7 linked regions of the Homo sapiens genome follow. The protein of the gene in region 3 purifies or fractionates together with the protein of the main gene of each other region. This does not show direct contact. Each region holds a gene or a part of one and is shown on either strand. Other genes may lie near its edges. The genes, in order: CLSPN, CAPRIN1, WDHD1, NCAPG, DDX23, SF3A3 and ACTR1A.

What was found.
Region 1: the proteins of WDHD1 (region 3) and CLSPN purify together in Homo sapiens (affinity purification with western blotting; one study listed by BioGRID). This does not show direct contact.
Region 2: the proteins of WDHD1 (region 3) and CAPRIN1 fractionate together in Homo sapiens (co-fractionation; one large-scale study listed by BioGRID). This does not show direct contact.
Region 4: the proteins of WDHD1 (region 3) and NCAPG fractionate together in Homo sapiens (co-fractionation; one large-scale study listed by BioGRID). This does not show direct contact.
Region 5: the proteins of WDHD1 (region 3) and DDX23 fractionate together in Homo sapiens (co-fractionation; one large-scale study listed by BioGRID). This does not show direct contact.
Region 6: the proteins of WDHD1 (region 3) and SF3A3 fractionate together in Homo sapiens (co-fractionation; one large-scale study listed by BioGRID). This does not show direct contact.
Region 7: the proteins of WDHD1 (region 3) and ACTR1A fractionate together in Homo sapiens (co-fractionation; one large-scale study listed by BioGRID). This does not show direct contact.

The regions. Positions count from the first base shown.
Region 1 is NC_000001.11:35,745,979-35,749,478, reverse strand, and holds part of CLSPN (claspin), read left to right. Parts: coding exon 1-12; intron 13-874; coding exon 875-1,074; intron 1,075-1,417; coding exon 1,418-1,572; intron 1,573-2,486; coding exon 2,487-2,713; intron 2,714-3,500.
Region 2 is NC_000011.10:34,054,731-34,058,230, reverse strand, and holds part of CAPRIN1 (caprin-1), read right to left. Parts: intron 1-3,500. UniProt on the Homo sapiens protein: mRNA-binding protein that acts as a regulator of mRNAs transport, translation and/or stability, and which is involved in neurogenesis, synaptic plasticity in neurons and cell proliferation and migration in multiple cell types.
Region 3 is NC_000014.9:54,992,600-54,996,099, reverse strand, and holds part of WDHD1 (WD repeat and HMG-box DNA-binding protein 1), read left to right. Parts: intron 1-286; coding exon 287-497; intron 498-3,500. UniProt on the Homo sapiens protein: Core replisome component that acts as a replication initiation factor. Binds directly to the CMG complex and functions as a hub to recruit additional proteins to the replication fork.
Region 4 is NC_000004.12:17,824,479-17,827,978, forward strand, and holds part of NCAPG (condensin complex subunit 3), read left to right. Parts: intron 1-489; coding exon 490-579; intron 580-903; coding exon 904-1,083; coding exon of another isoform or gene 1,084-1,089; intron 1,090-3,500. UniProt on the Homo sapiens protein: Regulatory subunit of the condensin complex, a complex required for conversion of interphase chromatin into mitotic-like condense chromosomes.
Region 5 is NC_000012.12:48,835,164-48,838,663, reverse strand, and holds part of DDX23 (probable ATP-dependent RNA helicase DDX23), read left to right. Parts: intron 1-583; coding exon 584-722; intron 723-1,006; coding exon 1,007-1,140; intron 1,141-1,270; coding exon 1,271-1,383; intron 1,384-1,626; coding exon 1,627-1,770; intron 1,771-1,869; coding exon 1,870-2,095; intron 2,096-2,397; coding exon 2,398-2,543; intron 2,544-3,500. UniProt on the Homo sapiens protein: Involved in pre-mRNA splicing and its phosphorylated form (by SRPK2) is required for spliceosomal B complex formation.
Region 6 is NC_000001.11:37,976,523-37,980,022, forward strand, and holds part of SF3A3 (splicing factor 3A subunit 3), read right to left. Parts: intron 3,012-3,500; coding exon 2,943-3,011; intron 2,534-2,942; coding exon 2,466-2,533; intron 2,306-2,465; coding exon 2,198-2,305; intron 432-2,197; coding exon 362-431; intron 1-361. UniProt on the Homo sapiens protein: Component of the 17S U2 SnRNP complex of the spliceosome, a large ribonucleoprotein complex that removes introns from transcribed pre-mRNAs.
Region 7 is NC_000010.11:102,485,713-102,489,212, reverse strand, and holds part of ACTR1A (alpha-centractin), read left to right. Parts: intron 1-74; coding exon 75-150; intron 151-937; coding exon 938-1,063; intron 1,064-3,479; coding exon 3,480-3,500. UniProt on the Homo sapiens protein: Part of the ACTR1A/ACTB filament around which the dynactin complex is built. The dynactin multiprotein complex activates the molecular motor dynein for ultra-processive transport along microtubules.

The sequences.
Region 1 (3,500 bases), on a different chromosome or scaffold from region 3:
CTAGCAAACTGGGTAAGTAGTGATTCTTGTGCAGAACTTAACATTTCTTTTGTCCCTCAGCTTTGATATTTAAGGACTGCAGTACGGTAAGTTTCCATGTTTTTAAATCTGGTCACTTCCCAGTTTCATATGTAGCTATGAAAAGGGTTTATGAATTAGAATATTTTTCTTGGTCTATTTTTTGCAGTTTATTTATAGTAGACCATGGTACATAATGTCCTTAGTGAATGTGTGTTGATTGAGTGAGCAATGAAATGTTTCTGTATGTAGATCAAAGGAAGACGTATAATTGATTGGACAATGAAGAGTGTGATCATAGGCATTAGGAAGGATAAGAGAAAGAAGAGAACTTTCGGCCAGGCGCAGTGACTCACGCCTGTAATCCCAGCACTTTGGGAGGCTGAGGCAGGCGGATCATGAGGTCAGGAGATCGAGACCAGCCTGGCTAACATGGTGAAACCCTGTCTCTACTAAAAATATAAAAAATTAGCCAGGTGTGGTGGCACGCGCCTGTAGTCCCAGCTACTTGGGAGGGTGAGGCAGGAGAATCGCTTGAACCTGGGAGGCGGAGGTTGCAGTGAGCCGAATTCACGCCACTACACTCCAGCTGGGGTGACAGAGCGAGACTGTCTCAAAAAAAAAAAAAAAAAAAAAAAAAGAACTTTCAAGTGTCACTTAGCTCAGAGTAATAAGCCCTGATTATATAATGCTATCTTAGTACTGTAATTTACCTTTAACTTAATGTTTTGGAACATATAACTTGAGGGGTTTGCCTATGAATTTTATCTGACAGTTTCATCCTCAACTCTTTTTCCTAAACAAATCCACCTTATTTCTGTAATCATGTGCTTAAAAGGTGTTTCTCTTTCTTTAGATGAGGATGATTCATGTTCATTGCTAACAAAGGAGAGCAGCCACAATAGCAGCTTTGAGCTGATTGGCTCCACGATTCCATCCTATCAGCCTTGCAACAGACAAACAGGCCGTGGGACCAGTTTTTTCCCTACAGCAGGAGGATTCAGATCTCCTTCCCCTGGGCTATTTCGAGCCAGTTTGGTCAGCTCAGCTTCTAAGGTAAGATGGTAATGGTTTTTCTAATCTCCTCCTCTCTTTGCTTCCCACATTGCTAAATAAAGTTTGTCCCAGCCAACCAACTCCCACCACGTTGGTACTGAGCTTATGTGTGTTCAGTTTAAAAAATCCACCCCCTTTGTGTATTAAAAACAAGCTTCATCCAGTATTCTTACTTTCTTGGAGGTATTTTTCTTTATGCTTCTCATGGCTGTGTATTGTCCCCCTCAACTACAATTTCCTGAGAGTAGCTTAAATATTGCAAATAGCAACTTTTGTGGTTGTCATGACAATGACTGACATTTGTAAAATGTTTTGTTATTGTTTGTTTTTGTTTGTGTGCCAGAGTTCAGGGAAACTGTCTGAGCCTTCACTTCCCATAGAGGATTCCCAGGATCTGTATAACGCCTCCCCAGAGCCTAAGACACTTTTCCTAGGAGCAGGAGACTTCCAGTTCTGTTTAGAAGATGACACTCAGAGCCAACTGTTGGATGCAGATGGGTAGGTAGTTTTGTGTTTCTGTGGGCGGGAATGGTGCTGGGTACTGCTTAATTTTGTTTAAAAATAAGTGAGCTTCTGTCACTCCATCTGTGCTTTCTCTTCTGAGAAAGAGAAGGTGTACAGACCATTAGTATTACATTCTATAAGTTTGAACAAAGTCTGTCCAGAAAATAAACATAAATAGCTCTTGCTAACATTCTGGTCCTTCAATTTCTGTCTTATTTGAAATGCATAGATCTTGTATTGTAAGGTCATCAAATTTCCCTGTATCCATCCTGCTATGTTATTATTGTTGGGTAAGGTTGAGAATTCACAGACTGGTGGCACATTACAGGACATAATGCCAAGCCCTGCTCTAGCATCATCTGAAGCTAAAAGTTATCCTTTACACTTTACCTTCTGAGTAACATTTTATTCTTTCACAAAACTTTTCCCTCCCTCTTTAGATTAACACAAGCCTAAAGTTTGAATCTTTTGCTTTCTGGTTTGAGATTCAGCTTTTAACTGGTGTAGGAAATGAATTCAGAGGTTTTTCACCCCCTACTTTGCCATTTCTCTGAGGAATTTTTTTTTATTTTTTTTTTTGAGGCAGAGTCTTGCTCTGTCGCCCAGGCTGGAGTGCAGTGGCGCGATCTCGGCTCACTGCAAGCTCCACCTCCTGGGTTCACGCCCTTCTCCTGCCTCAGCCTCCCGAATAGCTGGGACTACAGGCGCCCACCACCACGCCCGGCTAATTTTTTGTATTTTTAGTAGAGACGGGGTTTCACCATGTTAGCCAGGATGGTCTTGATCTCCTGACCTCGTGATCCGCCCGCCTCGGCCTCCCGAAGTGCTGGGATTACAGGCGTGAGCTACCGCACCCGGCCCTCTCTGAGGAATTTTTTACACTATTCGTTGTGCTCATTGGTTCTTAGGTTCTTAAATGTTAGAAACCACAGGAATCAGTACCAAGCTTTGAAGCCTCGATTGCCATTGGCCAGTATGGATGAGAATGCCATGGATGCCAACATGGATGAGCTGTTGGATTTGTGTACTGGAAAGTTCACATCTCAGGCTGAAAAACATCTACCCAGGAAGAGTGACAAGAAAGAGAACATGGAGGAACTTCTGAACCTTTGTTCAGGAAAATTCACTTCTCAGGGTAAATATCCAACCGAGAGTATCAAGCTTACCACACCCAAGTATCAGTGCCCTTGAAAAGAATTCCCTGGGCGGGTGGGGTGGCTCATGCCTGTAATCCTAGAACTTTGGGAGGCTAAGTTGGATGGATCGCTTGAGCTCAGAAGTTTGAGACCAGCCTGGGCAACATGGCAAATCCCCATCTCTACGAAAAAAAAAAAAAAAATTAGCCAGGCATGGTGGCACGTGCCTGTGGTCCTAGCTACTTGGGAGGCTGAGGTGGGAGGATCTCTTGAGCCTGGGAGATGAAGGTTGCAGTGAGCTGAGATCACACCAGTGCACTCCAGCCTGGGTGGCAGAGACCCTGCATAAAAATAGAAAAAAAGAAAGAAAGAAAAGAAGCCCCTTACCCTCAGGTGAAAAGTTCACAGAAAACAGGGCTGTGATGGAATCTGTGTATAAACTGAATTCACTGCTTAGTGCCCTGATATTTAGAACTCTTACTTTCTTAGAGTGGTAAAGTATCAACTTAAGACTACTTTAGGCCGGGCGCAGTGGCTCACGCCTGTAATCCCAGCACTTTGGGAGGCCAAGGCGGGGGATTTCCTGAGCTCAGGAGTTCGCCACCAGCCTGGGCAGCACGGTGAAACCCCGTCTCTACTAAAATACAAAAAATTATCTGGGCATGGTGGCCCGTGCCTGTAATCGCAGCTACTTGGGAGGCTGAGACAGGAGAACTGCTTGAACCCCGGAGGTGGAGGTTGCAGTGAGCCGAGATTGTGCCACTGCACTCCAGCCTGGGCAACAGA
Region 2 (3,500 bases), on a different chromosome or scaffold from region 3:
CAGGAGGCAGAGGTTGCAGTGAGCTGAGATTGCACCACTGCACTCCAGTCCTGGGCGACAGAGCAAGATTCTGTTTCAAAAAAAACTGCGAGAATTTTGGAAATCACCCATTCCAACCTAAGTCATTCCATATAAACATCTCAATTTTGTCTTCTATAAAATGAACTGGACTAAATTCTAAGGTGGTTTAAGCTCTAAAAAAAAACTCTTAGGCCGGACATGGTGGCTCATGCCTATAATCCCAACACTTTGGAGGCTGAAGTGGGTGGATCACTTCAGGTCAGGCGTTTTGAGACCAGCCTGGCCAACATGGTGAAATCCCATCTCTACTAAAAATATAAAAAATTAGCCGGGCGTGGTGGCGGGCGCCTGTAATCCCAGCTACTCAGGAGGCTAAGGCAGGAGAATAGCTTGAACCTGGGAGGGGGAGGTTGTAGTGAGCCGAGGTCATGCCATTACACTCCAGCCTGGGCAACGAGAGCAAAACTGTCTCAAATAATGATAATAAATAAAAATTAAAAATCCTCTAAATTTTATAACAGTGTAAGATTATAGCTATGACAAAATTGCTATAAGTTTAACCTTTTGCAAAAGTATTGCAAAAATTAACACTTTTACTAAAGGAAAAGTGTTAGTTTTTCTAAAAGATGAAACAGTACTAGTCTTCATCTAGCCCTAAATGTAAACTAGGAAATTAATTACATAAAATTTTGGCAAATTGTATGCTTAATCTGTAAGTCACACAAAATGCATTCTCAAATATCTGCCACATGGGTAGTATCCTAGAGTACACTAATTTGGCCACGTTAAAACAATACATTCTCAATGTAATACTTAGGCTTCGACTCTCACCCTAGAAAAAGGTACCCATTATCACTTGGGGGAATTCACAGCTTTAAATACTTCCCAGTGCTACACATACAAACACACACAGTCAAGCAAAGGGAAACAAATTAAGCATTACAGCTTTTTTCTATGACAAGGTGAATGCAAAATAATCTTGCCCTCTGCATTGCAGAAGAATAGTTCTTGCAACCCATGGAAAAGCAAACACATCAAGAGATCTTAAATGTCAAAGAAGGCTTCAGGTAATAGCCTCAAGGAAAGATTTTACTTATAAAATAGTTAAGAATGTTTTTATTTTAAAACACTGAACACATAAGTTCTGCACAACAGCTGCAATGAAAATTCTAAGCACAGACACACTGCAACGTTCTAGAAAGAAATGTTACCCTCACAACAACAGCATTCTTTTTAAAGAATACTACTAACTGCAAAGATGAAGTGCAGAAAGCCTTCAGGAAAAAGTATTAAAAACACTACACTTCTGGCTATCAGTTTTGGTCACTTAGTGGTTAAAAAGCTGTCAGGCTATTTTTGCATTTTACGCAAGTGATCATTAGTTAATCTTTCACCTACCAAAGTCACTAGAGTCTAAACCTATTATATTCACAAAGAATATAACAATTTTAAATGTCATCTATTAAAACATCCTTTATTCTATATCACAACTGATTACATCTAATAATATCAAATGAGGTCTCTCTTCAGTTAAAATTAAGACTTGGTTTTGAAATATCTTGCATAGCCTAGGGCCCAGTTCAGCACCAATGAACTGATAAAGAAAACTAGGCAGTTAATCATTCAATTCAATATTACCTGTAAGATTTGCAAATGGATTTTACACTTGATTATCACAGCTGTATTTCTTCTCTTTGCTAAACATTCATGTACTCTTTATAAGCCTGAATTTAAAAACCCACCAAGCCTTTTAGTTGCATTACATAACACGATCATATTTCATCAACATTAAGAGCATGCATTCTCAATGAGCAGATGCTTAGCTTTTTCTTTAATGGCTCAAATTATTAGGAAATAAACAACTTTGTTTTTTAAAGTACAATAAAATTATTTCAATTCTCTGTTTTAATTTAAGCAATACTACATATCCATAGTCATTTTTGCCAGGATATTTGATTTTAAAATCCATAAAAAAAGCATTTTGGTCCAGAAGGCTCCGATAAGAATAGGTCAAGATTGAAATAAAGCTCAAATGTAAGTTGCTAAATGGACTGAAGTCAAAACAAATCTAATTGTAAATAGTACCTCACTTTACTCCACAAGGGTTTCTAAAGAGGAATTCAAAACTGATTTGTAAAGCAATCCTATTTTAGTGCATTAGAAATGCTCACTTATACTTAAAAACAGTTAAGTCTTCTCACAAGTAAATCATCTAAATATAAAAAGGATTTAAACTAAAAACCAGATGTGCTTAAATTTAGGGCAAATCCAAATGCCCTGGGTTTTTCAAAGGGCAAAAGATATAGTTTTAATAGCAATTAAGTCAACATCAATACTGCCAACTTAACTACTTAACATGTAGGTAGAGTTCAGTCTGTGGCTTATCAAAGTCTCAAGACTTAACTGTAACTTGACCTTTTTGCTGCTATCTACCACTTAAAACACTGAGAAGACAGAAAAAAAAGTTACTTTGTGCAGTTTGTTGAATCTCCATTATTAACACGGCAATCTTTCAGTATGTATTAGCCTAGTTAATAACCTATGTAATAATTACATTATTTTCTCCTTTATGACTTTAGGGGAGGCCCGGCATGGTGGCTCACACCTGTAATCCCAGCACTCTGGGAGGCCGAGGCGGCTGGATCACCTGAGGTCAGGAGTTCTAGACCAACCTGACCAACAAGGTAAAACCTGTCTCTACTAAAAATACAAAAATTAGTTGGGCGTGGTGGCAGGTGCCTGTAACCCCAGCTACTCTGGGCGGGGGGCCGAGGCAGGAGAATCGCTTGAACCCAGGAGGCGGAGGTTGCAGTGAACCGAGATCACATCGTCGCACTCCAGCCTGGCGGACAAGAGCGAGACTTCTCAAAGAAAAAAAAATTGCCTGGGGTGGTGGCGCACACTTGTAATCACAGCTACTTAGGAGGCTGAAGCGGGAGGATCACTTGAACCCGGGAGGTGGAGGTTGCAGGAAGCCAAGATCATCCTACCGCACTCCAGCCTGGGCACTCCAGCCTGGGCAACAGAGATTCATCTCAAAAAATAAAAATAAAATAACAAAATCACTTGAGGGTAGGGTATGACAGAGTATAGTAATTCACATACACCTATACACATTTAATGACCAGTCATGGTTCAAGTCCTCAGGAGGGGCTTATAAACTAGATTTATATTTTTTTTTCAGAAGTACTTGAACACTAGATTCTAACAGCCACCTCACAACTAAATTGGCTGCCAATCAGCACCTACCTTTATATTAACTTCTCTGAGGAGTTATCTTTCAGTCATTAATGTCTCTACACTTTATATCACTAATCATTAATGTTCATAATTAGTATTAACACATTATTAATGTTCACAATCATTAATATTTTATGTTCAATTACTGTCCTAGAAAAAAACATTTCCAAGAAATTCTAAAGAATCAAAAACTCAAGTAGCAGCCAGATCAGCAGGCTTGCTTACTGCATTAAAATTTT
Region 3 (3,500 bases):
AATAAAATCTTATTTTATATTTTGGCATATACAGTATTTGTTTACATGTCAGTCCCTATACTCCCATCCCATCCCCAGACTACAAGGCATTTGAAATAAGGACTGGGTCTTATTGTGTAAATATAAATACAATTCTCATAAATACATTTACTAATTATTCTTATCTGTTCAGTGAGTTTGCTGCTTGGTAGAATTTATAGGTGCATATTAAAAGTTTACCTTTTTAGTAATTGAGTTTTTCTAAATCATTCACTTTTACTTTATAATTTGTATTAATTTGTTCAAGGTATCTAGCAGAGTGGAAAAGGATTATAATGATCTTTTTGATGGAGATGATATGAGTAATGCTGGTGATTTTCTAAATGACAATGCAGTTGAGATCCCTTCTTTTTCAAAAGGGATTATAAATGATGATGAGGATGATGAAGACCTCATGATGGCTTCAGGTCGTCCTAGACAGCGAAGTCACATCCTAGAAGATGATGAAAACTCAGTTGGTAAGAATTTGACTTTGTGCATGTGATTACCCTGTTGATTAATATTTTAGATTTTTTATTAACACTATTAAAGTCATTATTGAATTTGTAGAATGTAGCTAAGTGGTGCTTAGAGGAAATTTTATAGCATTAAATGACTTTGTTAAAAAAGGTTTCAAATCTATAATCCAAGCTTCTGCTATGGCAGACTAGAAAAAGAGAAAACTAAACCCCAAGCAAATGGAAGGAAATAATACAGAGCAAAATTCAATAAAATTGACAACAGAAAACCTATAGAGAAAGTCAATGAGACCAAAAGCTGGTTCTTTGACAAGATCAATAAGGCCGGGCACGGTGGCTCACGTCTATAATCCCAGCACTTTGGGAGGCTGAAATGGGCAGATCACTTGAGGTCAGGAGTTCAAGACCAGCCTGGCCAACATGGTAAAACCCTGTCTCTACAAAAATACAAAAATTAGCTGGGTGTGGTGGCACGTGCCTGTAATCCCAGCTACTCAGGAGACTGAGGCAGGAAACTCACTTGAACCCAGGAGGTGGAGGTTGCAGTGAGCCGAGATCGCGTCAACTGCATGCCAGCATGGGCAACAGAGCAAGACTCCATCTCCAAAGAAAAGAAAAGATCAATAAAATTAATAAATATCTATCGTGGTTGATCAATAAAGAGAAGACACAAATTACTAACATAGAGAATGAAAGAGAGGTGGGCCATCACTATAGATCTGTAGATTTGTGCTATCCAATATATAGTAGCCACTAGCCACATGTAGCTGTTGAGCACTTGAAATGTGGTTAGTTCAAACTGAGATATGTTATGAGTGCAACCGGATTTTTTTTTTTTTTTTGAGGCGGAGTCTCACTCTGTCACCCAGGCTGGAGTGCGGTGGTGTGATTTTGGCTCACTGCAACCTCCGCCTCCTGGATTCAAGTGATTCTTGTGCCTCAGCCTCCTGAGTAGCTGGGATTACAGGCATGCGCCACCACGCCTGGCTAATTTTTGTATTTTTAGTAGAGATGGGGTTTCACCATGGAGTGCAACCAGATTTTGAAGACAATATGAAAAAAAGAATGTAAAAATCTTGGGAAATTTTTTATATTGAGTACATGTTGAAATGATAATATGTATTTTAAATGCACTATATTATTAAGATTATGGCTGTTTCTTTTTACTCTTTAAACTTTAGAAATATTAGAAAATTTAAAATTACAGCTGTAACTCACATTATATGTCTGTATGGCAGTGCTACTATTAATATCAAAGGCATAATGGCAATATTATGAATAACTTTGTGCCCATAAATTTAACAACTTAAATGAAATAGACGAATTTTCTGAAAGACACAAAGTACCACTGCTAACTCAAGAAGTAATAGATAACCTGAATAGTATTGTATCTATTAAAGAAATTGAGATTGTAATTTAAAATCTTCAAATAGAGTGCTTATTGTAACAACTTACATGCTACAATAACACTTGAACATTATCAAGTAAAATGAAGAAATTGAGATTGTAATTGAAAATCTTCAAATAGAGTGCTTATTGTAACAACTTACATGCTACAATAACACTTGAACATTATCAAGTAAAATGCCAATGTGCAGTGCTATGTTGTGCTTTTTAAAGTCATATAGAGTTTATAGAACAGCAGTCCTCAAATGTTTTGGTCTCAGTAGCCTTTATACTCTAAAAAATTTTGAGGACCCTTCCGAGAGCATTTATTTATACAGAGTTACGGCTATCGTCATTTACATATTAGAAATTAAAATTCAGAAATTTAAAAATATTTATTCACTTAAAAATAACATTAATAAACTCATGTAAACATGAATAGTACTTTTTTATGAAAAACAAAAAAAATTAGTGAGAAGAGTGGCATTGCAATCTTTGTAATGTCTATCATAGAGGATAGCTGGATTCTCTCATCTACTTTTCTGGATTAAGTCTATTGCTATACATTGTTTTTGTTTGAAGTGTATAAAGAAAATTTGGCCTCACATAAATATGTAATTTGAAAAGGGAGAAGTATTTTAAGAAATCTTTTAATAGCACATTCAATTAATTGTGGATATTCTTTGATGTTGCACCAAGACTCAGAAGATGATCGTTTCCTAAAGATTACTTGCAAAGTGTAATCTGAAAACTTCAGTGAACTCTTACGGCTCTGTTATGTTAAGATTCATTGGTCTGGCTGGGAATGGTGGCTCTCACCTGTAATCCCAGCACTTTGGGAGGCCCAGGCAGGAGGATTGCTTGAGGCCAGGAGTTCAAGACCAGCCAGGGCAACATAGTGAGACCTCCTCTCTACAAAAAAACTTTAAAAATTAGCCAGGTGTGGTGACGTGTGCCTGTAATCCCACCTACTTGGGAGGCTGAGGTAGGAGGATCTCTTGAGCCCGAGAGGTCGAGGCTGCAGTGAGCCATGATTGCAACAGTGGGCTCCAGGCAGGGTAACAGAACGAGACCCTGTCTCAGAAAAAAACAAAATAAAATCAAAAAATTCATTGGTCTGACTTGAATGTTGAATGGATTTTTTAAAATCATGTTTAATTTTGTAACATATGAATTGATAATATTGGTTCACTGAAGTTTATAGATCCTCTTTATACTGACACTTTTTATTATCTAATATAAATTATTTGTTTTTGTTTTTAATTAATTATATGTTGTTTTTAATTAATTAATTTTTGTTTTTAGAGATAGCATCTTGCTCTGTCACCTAGGCTGGAGTGCAGTGGTATCATCACACCTCACTGTAACCTTGAACTCCTGGGCTTAAGCAGTTCTCCCACTCAGCCTTCCGGGTAGCTAGGACTACAGATGCATGCCACCATGCCCATCTAATTTTTTATTTTTTGTAGAGATGGAATCTTGCTTTGTTGCCCAGGCTGGTCTTGAAATCCTGGCCTCAAGTGATATTCCCTCCCCAGCCTCCCAAAGTGCTGCAATTACAAGCGTGAGTCACAGCACCTGGCTGTAAATTATATCTGCTAGTGTTGTTACCAATCT
Region 4 (3,500 bases), on a different chromosome or scaffold from region 3:
CTTTTCCTGATCAGCCAATTCCAATATACAAGTGGTTCTGAAAGGAAAGTCCTTCCTTATGCTATTATTATTTATGCATTGTCTACCCAAAGGAAGAATAAAAGGATATTCCATTTTTCTGTGTTTAACTCCTACAGAGCTGAACAAGAGAAGGGTTGAGGATTTTAGGCAGAGAATTTAAGTGTCTCATCTTAAGCACCATAATTCATATTTCTGTTTTTCAAACATTATATGAGGGATAATTTACTTTCACTGTCTGTGTGCCTATTTCCCTTCCATTCAAATAATTTCATTTTGTAGTCAGATATATTGTTTTGTTTTGTTTTTTTCTAAAATTGTCTAGCAAACAGAATGTGTGCTATTTCTACCAGTATGTTTTTGCTCCATTATTCAATATATGGTGGATACTACTTGGAGTTTTATATAGAATTTTGATACTATTTGCTGATATATCAAACATATATTAAAGCATGTACTCTGAACTTACAGGTTACAGAAATTATCTCAGAGATTCGGGCGCCCATTGTTACTGTTGGTGTTAATAACGATCCAGCTGATGTAAGAAAGAAAGAACTCAAGGTAAGTCTCTTTTAAATGAAAGAAGTGCTTGAGTGTAATGTAGCTGGGCAAGTCTATTCTTTCCTCTTGCTGTGCAGTTCTGAAATGTTTCTCACATAATCAAATTATTGTTTAATTGTTAAACTATAAGAATATTTAAAATGTTACCACATATGTCAGTCTCAGAGATATGCAGATCTCTGTGTCAGGAAAACTACAAGTTTGCATATGCCTGACTCATTAAATTCTGGGCAGTTGAGATATTAAATAATACTCCTGAGTTGCTACAGATATTCATATTAACAGTTTTTGTTCAGTGTTGAAACAATTTATATCTTCCCTTAGATGGCTGAAATAAAAGTTAAGCTTATCGAAGCCAAAGAAGCTTTGGAAAATTGCATTACCTTACAGGATTTTAATCGGGCATCAGAATTAAAAGAAGAAATAAAAGCATTAGAAGATGCCAGAATAAACCTTTTGAAAGAGACAGAGCAACTTGAAATTAAAGAAGTCCACATAGAGAAGGTACAGGTAACTTTTTTCATACTAAATCTCAGGTGTTATTAATCATCTCAACTAAATCTTATTTTCTCTAACTTCTAGAATTGCCAAAATATATTTACTTTGAGCACTTTGTAATAGTGACATGAATTAAAATGAAAAAAGTTTTTCCCTGTTTCTATTTTTGGACTTTGAAAGGCCTTAATTAACTTTAATTATTGGAGGTAGGACTTTATTTGCTTCCTTGTCATGCTAATCTCTAGAATCCGAAGTCTTTCTTACCAGGGAAGCTAGCTTTCCAGTGGTTCACATCTGAGTTTTCTGTTTTTTGTCTTGAATGGTTTAAAAAAGGAAAATACATCCATTTTCCTCTTATTTGTGGAGGATCAATGACCTTTCTTTTTTATTGCTAGCAAAATAATTTCTATGGTAACGTGCATTTTTTTAAAGCTAAATTACTTTTGTGTTTTTAGAAAAAGCTACGCAGCTTTGTTATTTTTAATGAAATACTGAAATATGTCTAGTAACATTTAAAGCTTGCTTTTCAGTAGTTCGTTTTTTAAAAAATTAGTTTGTTAAAGTACTCTCTTAAATGGAGTATGTCTTTCCTTCTGAAAGAAATTTTTTGTTAATGGTATCGATACCATTCTGTCTTACAACAAATGATAAATATGTAAACATAAGATAGGTATCAATTAATATTTGATATTAACTTTAATTTCTTTTGGGATCTTGCCTTTTGTAATGAACATCATTTATTGTTGTACTTTTGGGATGTGCTGATTATTCTCATAAAAAGAATGCTAAATAGGAGACTCTTTTATATAGGAGAGTTTCATGAGTTATGTTTCTGATCTCTTTAGCCATAGACATCCCAACTCCAACACCCACCTTCCCAGAGTGTATGCCTGAATTTTATTTTGATAGCTGGTGGCTTCTTTTATTTGACGAAGTCTGTGGGCCATTATAGGCTATTAAATTTGGAAAGCAAATTTAAAGCAAAAACTGAAAATATCATCTGAAAAATGACAAACTTTAGGTCAAAATTATAAAATTAGCAAAAGTAGTCTATCATGGTTAATATCGTCTGTTTAACTTGACTTGCTTTGACCATTTATGTGTCTATTTGTCCTGTTCGAGGGCTACAAATCTGTTAAAATGCAACTACAACAGAGCATAATAAATGCTATGGTCAGGGAAGTATAGAGGTTTTATGGAGAGGTTTCTAGTGCTGGTAGAGTATTGTTGGCTTCCCCAGAGGAAGACATGTTTTATCCTGAGATTAGAATAAAAATAACAATATAATCTAACAGTCAGAGGATACTTTTTCTGTGGTAGTCACAGCATTAATTACTTCACAAATGTGAATTCATTCTTTTCTTCCTATAGGCCTATGAGGTTGGTACTATTATTATCTTCATTTTACAAAGGGCAAGTAACTTGCCCAAAATCACACAGATAGTAAATGGTGGAGGCAGGATTTAAACCCAAGAAGTGGCTCTAGACTTGTGCTTTTAACTCACTCTGTGCTGTCTCTCCTCAATGAATTATGGAAGGAATGTTGTAGACAGATGGAGCAACATCTGTGATGGTCCAGAAGTTAAAGAATGCCTATTATGTTTTAAAACTTCAGGTCCATGTGACTAGAGAATTGATGGGGAGAAGCAGGAGAAAAATCTGGGGAAAAATTAAGGGCTAGGTCATGTAAGGCTTTGCGTAAGCAATATTAAAAATTTTGTATTCTAAGGATTGTGGTGAACCACTAGTATTTTAAGTGGTTAGGTAAGTCTTATGTCTCAGATCACTGTTGTTTAGGAAATGGATTGGAGAGTAGTAAAAGCTTAGACAGGCATAATAGTTGGGAGACTTACAGTAGGGTTGGGAGACTTACAGATGATGGTAGTCTGAACAAGATAATGACAGTGGATTTGGAAAGTAGTGATGAACTTGAGAGGTATTTAGAAATTAGTAACGGAGAAAAGGGAGTCAGGAATGTATCTTAAGTCTTTTGGTTTAGACAACTGGGTAGATGGTGATGACAGTATGAAGATAGAGAACAAGGAAGAGGAGAGATTTGTGTAATGATGAGTTCCCTTTTGGACATGTTGAGTTTGAGGAAACTGTGGAACATCAAGAGGAAATGTCTTTTAGCAGTTATATATATGAATCTGAAACTTAGAAAATAGCTGGGCTAGCTCATAGATGATAAACGAGGTTGTCAGGTTTTTTTTTTTTTGAGGTGATAATTAGGCAAGATGAAGATTAGACTTTTTTTTTTTTTTTTTTGAGACAACGTCTCCCTCTGTTGCCCAGGCTGGAGTGCAGTGGCATGATCTCAGCTCACTGCAACCTCCACCTCCCGTGTTCAAGCCATTCTCGTGCCTCGGCCTCCCAAGTAGCTGGGACCACAGGTGTGCACCACCACACTAATTTTTGTGTTT
Region 5 (3,500 bases), on a different chromosome or scaffold from region 3:
TGGCCAGGCTTGTCTTGAACTCCTGACCTCGTGATCCGCCCATCTCGGCCTCCCAAAGTGCTAGGATTACAGGCACAAGCCACCGCACTCGGCCACATTTTTTTTTTTTTTTTAAAGGTAAGGTCTTGCTCGTTTGCCCAGGCTAAAGTACAGTGGTGCAATCACAGCTCACTGTAACCTCAAACTCCTGGGCTCATATGATTTTCCTGCCTCAGCCTCCTGAGTAGCTGGGACTATATGCACATGCCATCATGTCTGGCTGAGTTTTTTTATTTTTGTAGAAACAAGGTCTGCTATGTTGCCCAGGCTGGTCTTGAACTCATGGCCTCAAGCGGTCCTCCCATCTAGGTCTCATAAAACACTGGGATTACAGGCATGTGCCACCACGTCCAGCCTGAAAAAACATATGAATTCTGTAGGGGACATAGTTCAGTCCATAACCGAGTCCAAGGCCTATTTGTGTTTTCCTCAACAGGCTTAATGCCTGAGCAAATACTTTTGGGTTCCCTGCCATCTCCCCATCAGTGATGTGATTGTACCCTGCTCCCAGATCCTTTGTTGACAGTTCCAATCTCTTTTGTAGCCCAAGTTCCTCTCTAAAGCAGAACGAGAGGCTGAAGCTCTAAAGCGACGGCAGCAGGAGGTGGAAGAGCGGCAGAGGATGCTTGAAGAAGAGAGGAAGAAAAGGAAACAGTTCCAAGACTTGGGCAGGAAGATGTTGGGTTTGTTATTCTACCCTGTGTAGCCCCTAGATGGAAGAGGAAAGAGTGGGATGAGATACAGTGTCTCTTAGGAGAGATAGAAACCTGTTCACTCTGGAGTTTGGAAAGGGGAAGGATGGTGGGAGTTTATGAGAAAACATTTTTCTGTTAGATCTCCATTTACCCCATATCATAAGTCTACCCCTTTTTTTCTTCATTTGGGGTTCCTCGTCTGGATTCCCTCCATTCCCTCTCCTCTTTTCTTCCATGAGCTCTTCTGCAGCTTTGCTTTCTTTGGTCTGCAGAAGATCCTCAGGAACGGGAACGTCGGGAACGCAGGGAGAGGATGGAACGGGAGACCAATGGAAATGAGGATGAGGAAGGGCGGCAGAAGATCCGGGAAGAGAAGGATAAGAGCAAGGAACTGCATGCCATTAAGGTGCAGGCCTTGGCTCCATCTTCACTTCTCTCCCACACAAAAATGAGGTTTAGTTATTTGGCCATTGTGATCTCTGCATGTGAGAATTGGGCCTCAAAGCTCATGTGCTTTGTGTTCTGTCCCTGGGTAGGAGCGTTACCTGGGTGGCATCAAAAAGCGGCGCCGAACGAGACATCTCAATGACCGGAAATTTGTTTTTGAGTGGGATGCATCTGAGGACACATCCATTGACTACAACCCCCTGTGAGTGGCTTCAGGCCTGAGTTCTAGGTCTTTTCCACTAGGCAGTCCTAGAGAGCTGATGACTACGGAGGTGGAGGAAGTAAGATAAGCTGGGATGGAAAATTGGTAGACTGGTAGTCAGCCAGCCCTCTGGTGGAAGAAAGACCCTGTCTGGGAAGAACTGTTTCATACTAGTAGTCTGCCCTTCCTTCCTACTGCCGTTAACAGCTCCTTCTTTTTTCTTTTCCTCTATCTCAATCCCAGGTACAAAGAACGGCACCAGGTGCAGTTGTTAGGGCGAGGCTTCATTGCAGGCATTGACCTCAAGCAGCAGAAGCGAGAGCAGTCACGTTTCTATGGAGACCTAATGGAGAAGAGGCGAACCCTGGAAGAAAAGGAGCAGGAGGAGTGAGTGATCAAGGCTAGGGTGGCTGGACAGAGCCCAGAGGCTCTACAGAAAGGAGTTGGAGGGCACTGATTCTACTTACTCCTCACACCCTGCTCCAGGGCAAGACTCCGCAAACTTCGTAAGAAGGAAGCCAAGCAGCGCTGGGATGATCGTCATTGGTCTCAGAAAAAGTTAGATGAGATGACGGACAGGGACTGGCGGATCTTCCGTGAGGACTACAGCATCACCACCAAAGGTGGCAAGATCCCCAATCCCATCCGATCCTGGAAAGACTCTTCTCTGCCCCCACACATCTTGGAGGTCATTGATAAGTGTGGCTACAAGGTAAGGAGGGATAGATTGGCCCAAGAGATCTGACATGTTCCTACACTAGTTTGGGAATAGAGAACTTTGTTCCTTGACTATTTGGAGCCATCGCTGCTAGTGGGCACCAATGTGACCTTTTCTGTCACTTTCTGGTAGAAGTGTTGGCTTTTAGTGATTAGGTTTCTTCTTGGGGTCCCTATTTCTGTGAACTGTACTTGGCATCCTTCCATTGTGCTAGCAGATGTGCTTACTACTATCAGTGGTTGCCCAGGTGGTATAACTCTCCCTGTACCTATTACTCTTTCTTGGGGTCACTGCAGGAACCAACACCTATACAGCGTCAGGCAATTCCCATTGGGCTACAGAATCGTGACATCATTGGTGTGGCTGAGACTGGCAGTGGCAAGACAGCAGCCTTCCTCATCCCTCTGCTGGTCTGGATCACCACACTTCCCAAAATTGACAGGTGAGGTCAGCTAGCACCAGCTGGAGTGGGTTTGTCTGGGTAGGAAAGGTGAAAGTGGCAAATGAATGTTTGATTTTTGTTTTACGTCTATAATCAGAAGCTTTCTTCTTTATTCTTTGTTGGATATTAGGGAATAATTGGATCATGATATCGAAGAAGTATATGTTGCTGGCAAAGACCTGGAGAACTTTGCTATCCTGGAGTCTCTGATTTATTTTATTTATTTTTTTGAGGCAGAGTCTCACTCTGTCACCCAGGCTGGAGTGCAGTGGCACGATCTCAGCTCACTACAACTTTTGCCTCCCAGGTTCAGGTGATTCTCCTGCTTCATCCTCCTGAGTAGCTGGGGATTACAGGCGTGTGCCACCACTTCTAGCTAATTTTTGGTTTTTTGTTTTGTTTTGTTTTTTGAGACGGAGTTTCGCTCTTGTTGCCCAGGCTGGAGTGCAATGGCGCAATCTCGGCTCACTGCAACCTCCTCCTCCCAGGTTCAAGTGATTCTCCTCCCTCAGCCTCCCAAGTAGCTGGGATTATAGGTGCCCGTCACCATGCCCGGCTAATTTTTTTGTATTTTTAGTAGAGACGGGGTCTCAATGTTGGTCAGGCTGGTCTCTAACTCCTGACCTCAAGTGATCTGCCTGCCTCAGCCTCCCAAAGTGTTGGAATTACAGGCGTGAGCCAGTGTGCCTGTCCTTAATTTTTACATTTTTAGTAGAGATGAGGTTTCACCATGTTGGCCAGGCTGGTCTCAAACTCCCGATCTCAACTGATCTGCCTGCCTTGGCCTCCCAAAGTGCTGGGATTACAGGCGTGAACCACTGCACCTGGCTGAATCTCTGATTTTTATGTATTTATTATTTATTTATTTATTTATTTTTTGAGATGGAGTCTCGCTCTATTGTCTAGGCTGGAGTGCAGTGGTGTGATCTTGGCTTACAGCAACCGTTGCCTCCCAGG
Region 6 (3,500 bases), on a different chromosome or scaffold from region 3:
AAAGGCCACTTTGAGTAGCCTTTCTGTTACTTGCCCTTTGAGTGTCTGCTTTGTGGGCTACTCCTGAGTATTTTCTAAAGCTCAGGCACAGAATCTGCACTATTCTGGACATTATATTGTGAGGGGACTCTATTCTCCATGACTGGCTTTATGGGAATTGGGCAACTTTGGGAGTATCATCTAACAACAGAATAGGAACTTACTGAAGAGCCTTGTACCCTGACCTCTATTTTGTGCCATACTAGTTTATCAGCTATCCACTCCTCTTTTGAACCTAATGAAAAAGTATCTTCTGTGAGTTCCTCTCCCTTTAACTCCTGTGCTTTATACCATTTTCCACTTTCAGCAGTCAGTCACTTACCCCGAGAATCTCTACATATTCATAGATCTGGGCTTCTAGAAAAGCAATGTCTTTGTTCCTTTCAGTGTCTCTGAGAAAAAGAAACAAGCTGTTTCACTCAAGGATTCTCTCATCCATTGTTTTGTTCCCTATATCTGGGAACATTTATTGCACAACTGCATTAAAAATTATAAGCACATGAGAAATACGATGCTATGAAAGCAAATGCTCTGTTCATCTCAGGACTCTCTGACAAATACTGAGGGTATTTCTCAGAATGCATGGAGGCTTCCTCTATGACCTCACTTAGAAGATGAAGGACACATCAAGACCGCTTACATTTCCATCATTATAATCTACAAAGGAAATGTGGTATATAAGAGCAAGCTCTGCAGCAGGTAGACCTAGGCCCAAATCCTGACTCTGCTACTTAGAACTATGAGAGAGTGGACACATTCCATAACTTTTCTGAGTCCTTATCTGCAAAAACTCAGGATAACAACTAATTTTCTGGGTTGTTGTGAGAATTAGAAAAAAACGTACATTAAGAAAATACTGGGCCAGGCTCGGTGGCTCATGCCTGTAATCCCAGCATTTTGGGAGGCTGAGGCTGGCGATCACTTGAGGTTGGGAGTTTGTGACCAACCTCGCCAACATGGTGAAACCCTCTCTCTACTAAAAATACAAAAATTAGCTGGGCACGGTGGCTCACATGCCTGTAATCCCACCACTGTGGGAGGCTGAGGCAGGTGGATCACCTGAGGTCAGGAGTTCATGACCAGCCTGGCCAACATGGTGAAACCCCGTCTCTACTAAAAATACAAAAACTAGCCAGGCATGGTGGCGCACTCTGGTAATCTCAGCTACTCGGGAGAGTGAGGCAGGAAAATCGCTTCAAGCAGGGCGGTGGAGGTTGCAGCGAGCCGAGATTGCGCCACTGCACTTGAGCCTGGGTGACAGAGGAAGACTCCGTCTCAAAAACAAACAAACAAAAAACACACAAAAATTAGCCAATGTGGTGTTGCACATCTGTAATCCCAGCTACTCGGGAGGCTGAGGCAGCAGAATCACTTGAACCCAGAAGGCGGAGTTTGCAGTGAGCCGAGATTGTGCCACTGCACTCCAGCCTGGGCAACAGAGCGAGATTCCATCTCAAAAAAGAAAAAAACAAACAAACAAAAAAAACAACCCTGGGTCGGGCACGGTGGCTCGCGCCTATAATCGCAGCACTTTGGGAGGCCAAGGCAGGTGGATCACTTAAGCTCAGGAGTTGCAGACCAGCCTGGCTAACATGATGAAACCCCATCTCTACTAAAAATACAAAAAATCAGCCATGTGTGGTGGTGCGTGCCTGTAGTCCCAGCTACTCAGGAGGCTGAGGCAGGAAAATCTTTTGAACCCAGGAGGTGGACGTTCCAGTGAGCTGAGATTGCACCACTGCACTCCAGCTTGGGCAACAGAGTGAGACTGTCTCAAAAAAAAAAAAAAAGAAAAAAGAAAATACCTTGTATAAGTATGTAGCTCAAGAATTAGATTCAACTTTACCAAAAATAAGCTTAGAAAAATAGGTTTTGAACCTATTTAGCCTTTTAGCCTCCATAACCTATTAAAGGTGCCATGAATATGGTTTCAAATTTAGAAACTTGATGTGCTCTCAATCAGATGAATACAGACGGTCCTTGGTTTATATTAACAGTGATAGTACTCTCTGCTATTAGCAGAGATAAAGAGCAGACTGGATCTCTGTCAACCAATAACGGAGATAAAGCAGGCTTTAAAGTCTCCACTGTGGTTAAAAATTCTGCATGGGAATAACATTTAAAAGCCACAAGCAGCAGTGCTACCCCAGCCACTCACCGCTTGGTGCCCTTTGACTTGGGATTTTTGGCAAACAAAGAGGTATCAAGTGACTCCAGGGACTTTCCTTTGGTACTGAATAGTCTCTGGGCTCGCTCTTCTAGGGTCCTAAGGAGACAGGACGGCAAAGGATTTTAGGGTTACTTTACCACACAGGCTGGCTTATTTTTGCAGTGTGGAGCAACAAAAAAAATGGAATCAGAGCTACTTAGAAGACTGTGCAAACACACAGTAAATCGATAGTTTTGATAGAAAAACTATTCCTTACCCGCCACATTTCAAGCCTAAAGCTAAGAGAGCAGATTTCAATCTGTCCAAACCCAGAGAAGCCAACTCCTATACAAAGAAGAGAAAAATTACAATATTACATTAACAGATTTTTGGGAAACCCCAAATGCAGGCCAGAGGGTGGGTGTTCCTGAGGCTGTGGCAGGACCACACATTTCACAGCCAATCTAGCAGTAAGTCTAAACTCTCCAGAGGACTGAATCTATAGTTATCTTCAGACTTAACCATACTGATAGTGTTCCATTTACTTTACTACGGCTTAATGTAGTTAGAATAATTATTTCAGTTTCCCAAGTAGTAATTTTTTTCTTTTTGCCTTGCTACTTTCTTTGTAGATGCTTGATCTCAAGAAATAGTGCCTTATCACAACACAACCATGGTATTAAAGACAGGAGAGCAGTCTTTAAAGACAGAAAAATAGACAGAGAGAACACTACTACTGCTGAAGGAAACATACCTCCCAGGAGGAGAATGCAGAGAGGTCAAGATGGGCTCCAGCATGGGTCAGGGCACTGCTTGTCTCTTTCTGGAAAGAACAATATGGTATTTATTAAGATCCAGGTTTAGGCCAGGTGTGGTGGCTCACACCTGTAATCTCAGCATTTTGGGAGGCCAAGATAGGTGAATTGCTTGAGTTCAGGAGTTAGAGACCAGGCAGGGAAACATGGTGAAATCTTGTCTCTACAAAAAATTATCTGAATTAGCTGGGCATGATGGCATGTGCCTGTGGTCCCAGCTACTCAGGAGTCTAAGGTGGGAAGATCTCTTGAGCCCACAAGGTTGAGGCTGCAGCAGTGAGGTATGATCATGCCACTGTACTTCAGCCTAGAAGCCAGATGGAGACTTTGTCTCCCAAAAAACAAAACAAAACAAAACAAAACAAAAAACAAAAAAACCCCACCAGGTTTAGGATGAAGCTAAGGTTTGTCCACATTCTCTCCCTGGAGAGTTCAGGAAAAACTCATGTTTATCCCTAGAAGTGAGAATGTAGATTCCTAACATATGATCTGATAAG
Region 7 (3,500 bases), on a different chromosome or scaffold from region 3:
ATGTACATCTATACATCCTTCCTGTGTTCTGTCATGAAATGAAAAATGATGGTCCTCCTCACTGTCTTTTCTAGTGTGGGCCGACCCAAGCACGTTCGTGTCATGGCAGGAGCCCTTGAAGGCGACATCTTCATTGGCCCCAAAGCTGAGGTAATTCCCAGGCCTACAGAACAAGCCTTAAGCCAGCAGAGGACCTTCATTATTCACCACATGGAACATGTCCCAACATTTGGACATACCCATAAGTAAAAGGGGCAACTTTCTCTGAAAATCTCCTTTTTGATTCTCTCATCCTAGGCTTAGGTGGTTTATTTTTCCCAGGAACAGCCTGTGGTCTTGGAGAAGAAAATACCTGGGACCTCACTTTGGGACACACTGAGACCAGTCTAGGAAACAGGGCTGTTGTCTTCTGCATCCTGTCACTGCCTTGTCAGTGATCAAATTTACTGTGTTTATTATTTTTTTCACAAAAAATATTCAGTGGGGAGATCCTGGCTGGGGTACCCTAGGGATGAGTTAATTCACACAGCTTTGTCAGAGCCCTCATGCAGCCTCTTGTAAGCAGATAGCAGAATCGCTGTTGCCATCCTTGGCTTCAAGTGCTGAGGCCCAGAGGTGGGAGCCAGGAGATTGTGTCCTGGAACCAGGCAATGAGGAAGATGCCTCCTGCCACTTGCCCTAGAGGCACCTGAGGGGCCATGGAAATGCAGAAGCCCCTGCTTTGCCGGCTCCTCGGGAATGAGGGCAGTTTGCAGCAAACAGTATTTAGCCTTGGAGAATGAGTGCCCACCCTTAGCCCTGGGCAAGGACAGCAGGGTGGAAGCTCAGGAAGCTGAGGCTTCTTTGCAAGGGATTCAGCTTGCACTGCTTAGTCTTGGGAGAACAGGGTCCTGGGTGGAGCCTGACTGCAGTCGTAAGTCCTGTTCTCTTTTCCCAGGAGCACCGAGGGCTGCTTTCAATCCGCTATCCCATGGAGCATGGCATCGTCAAGGATTGGAACGACATGGAACGCATTTGGCAATATGTCTATTCTAAGGACCAGCTGCAGACTTTCTCAGAGGAGGTGAGGATCCTGTGTGTAGGGCACTCCTGTAGGGTATGCAAAGCTGTGTCAAACTCCTACCCTAGAGATGATGAGGAGGACGATGATCACTGCCAAGAGTGCTGGAGCCATTTGATTTTCAGGCATATTCAGATTTAATCTTAACACCATTCCTATGAGATATAGGTAGTATTATCTCATTTTACAAACAAGGGAACAAGTTCAGAAAAGCCAAGTCGTGGCCGGGCGCGGTGGCTCACACCTGTAATCCCAGCACTTTGGGAGGCCGAGGCGGGTGGATCACGAGGTCAGGAGATCGAGACCATCCTGGCTAACACGGTGAAACCCTGTCTCCACTAAAAATACAAAAAATTCTCCGGGCGTGGTGGCGGGCGCCTGTAGTCCCAGCTACTCCGGAGGCTGAGGCAGGAGAATGGCGTGAACCCGGGAGGCGGAGCTTGCAGTGAGCCGAGATTGCGCCACTGTGCTCCAGCCTGGGTGACAGAGTGAGACTCCGTCCCAAAAAAAAAAAAAAAAAAGAAAAGCCAAGTGGTATTTCCAAGGTCACCAAGTGAACAAAGGGTAGAGATGGAATTCAAACCTATGTCTTTTAGAATTCAAAGCCTGTGCTCATTAACTTCTTTCACCCAGACTGGAGTGCAATAGCTCACTGCAGCCTCGACCTCCTGGGCTCAAGTAATCCTCCCATCTCAGCCCCACCCCCCACCATGCCCGGCTAATTTTGTGTGTGTGTGTGTGGTGGGGTTTTGCTCTTGTTGGCCAGGCTGGAGTGCAATGGCGTGATCTAGGCTCACTGCAACCTCTGCCTCCCGGATTCAAATGATTCTCCTGCCTCAGCTTCCCAAGTAGCTGGGATTACAGCATGAGCCATGGCACCTGGCAAATTTTGTATTTTTTGTAGAGACAAGGTTTTGCCATGTTGCCCAGGCTGGTCTCGAACTCCTGGGTTCAGGCAATCTATCCGCCTCCACCTCTCAAAGTGCTGGGATTACAGGCGTGAGCCACCTTGTGCAGCCTGTGCTTATTAACTTGTAAGGAAGTAACTCTCCATTCAAAAATGTAAAGGGAGGCTGGTCACTGTGGGTCATGCCTGTAATCCCAGCACTTTGGGTGGATCTCTTGAGCTCAGGAGTTTGAGACCAAGTTGGGCAGCATGGCGAAACACCACCTCTACTAAAAATATGAAAAAAAAAAAAATAGCCGGGTACAGTGGTGCGTGCCTGTAGTCCCAGCTACTTGAAATGATGAGGTGGGAGGACTGCTTGAGCCTGGGGGCATCGAGGTTGCAGTAAGCCAAGATCGCACCACTGAACTCGCAGCCTGGTGACAGAGTGAGACCTTGTCTCAAAAAAAAAAAAAGAAAGAAAGAAAATGCAGAGAGGTGCAGACTAGGTGTATCAATTTCCAGGTGCAGGTGGGATGTTTTCAGTTTTGGGTTTTTTTTGTTTGCTTTTTTGAGATGGAGTTTCGCTCTTGTGGCCTAGGCTAGAGTGCAATGGCGCAATCTCGGCTCACCGCAACCTCTGCCTCCCAGGTTCAAGCGATTCTCCTGCCTGAGCCTTCCTGAGTAGCTGGGATTACAGGCATGCACCACCACCAAGCCCGGCTAATTTTGTATTTTTAGTAGAGACGGGGTTTCTCCATGTTGGTCAGGCTGGTCTCGAACTCCCGACCTCAGATGATCCGCACGCCTCAGCCTCCCAAGGTGCTGGGATTACAGGTGTGAGCCACCACGCCCGGCTGTTTTCAGACAGTTTTTTTAAAGCAGTGGTCCCCAACCTTTCTGGCACCAGGGACTAGTTTCTTGGAAGACAGTTTTTCCATGGGGGTGGGGGTTTGGGGTGGCCAGATAGTTTCAGGATGAAGCTGTTCCACCTCTGATCATCAGGCATTCAATTCTCATAAGGAGTGCCCAACCTAGATCCCTCACATGCGCAGTTCACAGTAGGGTTCACACTCCTATGAGAATCTAGTGCCTTGGATGATCTGATGGGAGGTGGAGCTCAGACAATAATGCTCGCTTACCTGCCATTCACCTCCTGCTGTGCAGCCTGGTTCCTAACAGGTCACAGACTAGAACTGGTCTGCGGCAGGAATTTAGAGTTTCACAAAATCTTCTTGACAGTTGGAGATACACAGTAGACACAGGGGCCTGTATAACAATCTTGGAGGACAAGGAGGGGAGTTGGGGGGCACAGCTGAGGACAGAATGAAATTTTAAAGTGGGCATTAACTTGAAAAGTTGAGAAAACTACTTGGGCAGGGATAGTTGACAGGCACAGCTTGCCTTTTTTTGGAGTGAGGCTGACTGAAGTCCCCGGGCTCTCAAACCAGCAAGGCAGGGTCTTCTCCCCTAAGACTAATGAAGATGGAAATCTGGCCTTGGCCTCATTGTCTCCCGGGCTCCTTTCACCAGCATCCTGTGCTCCTGACTGAG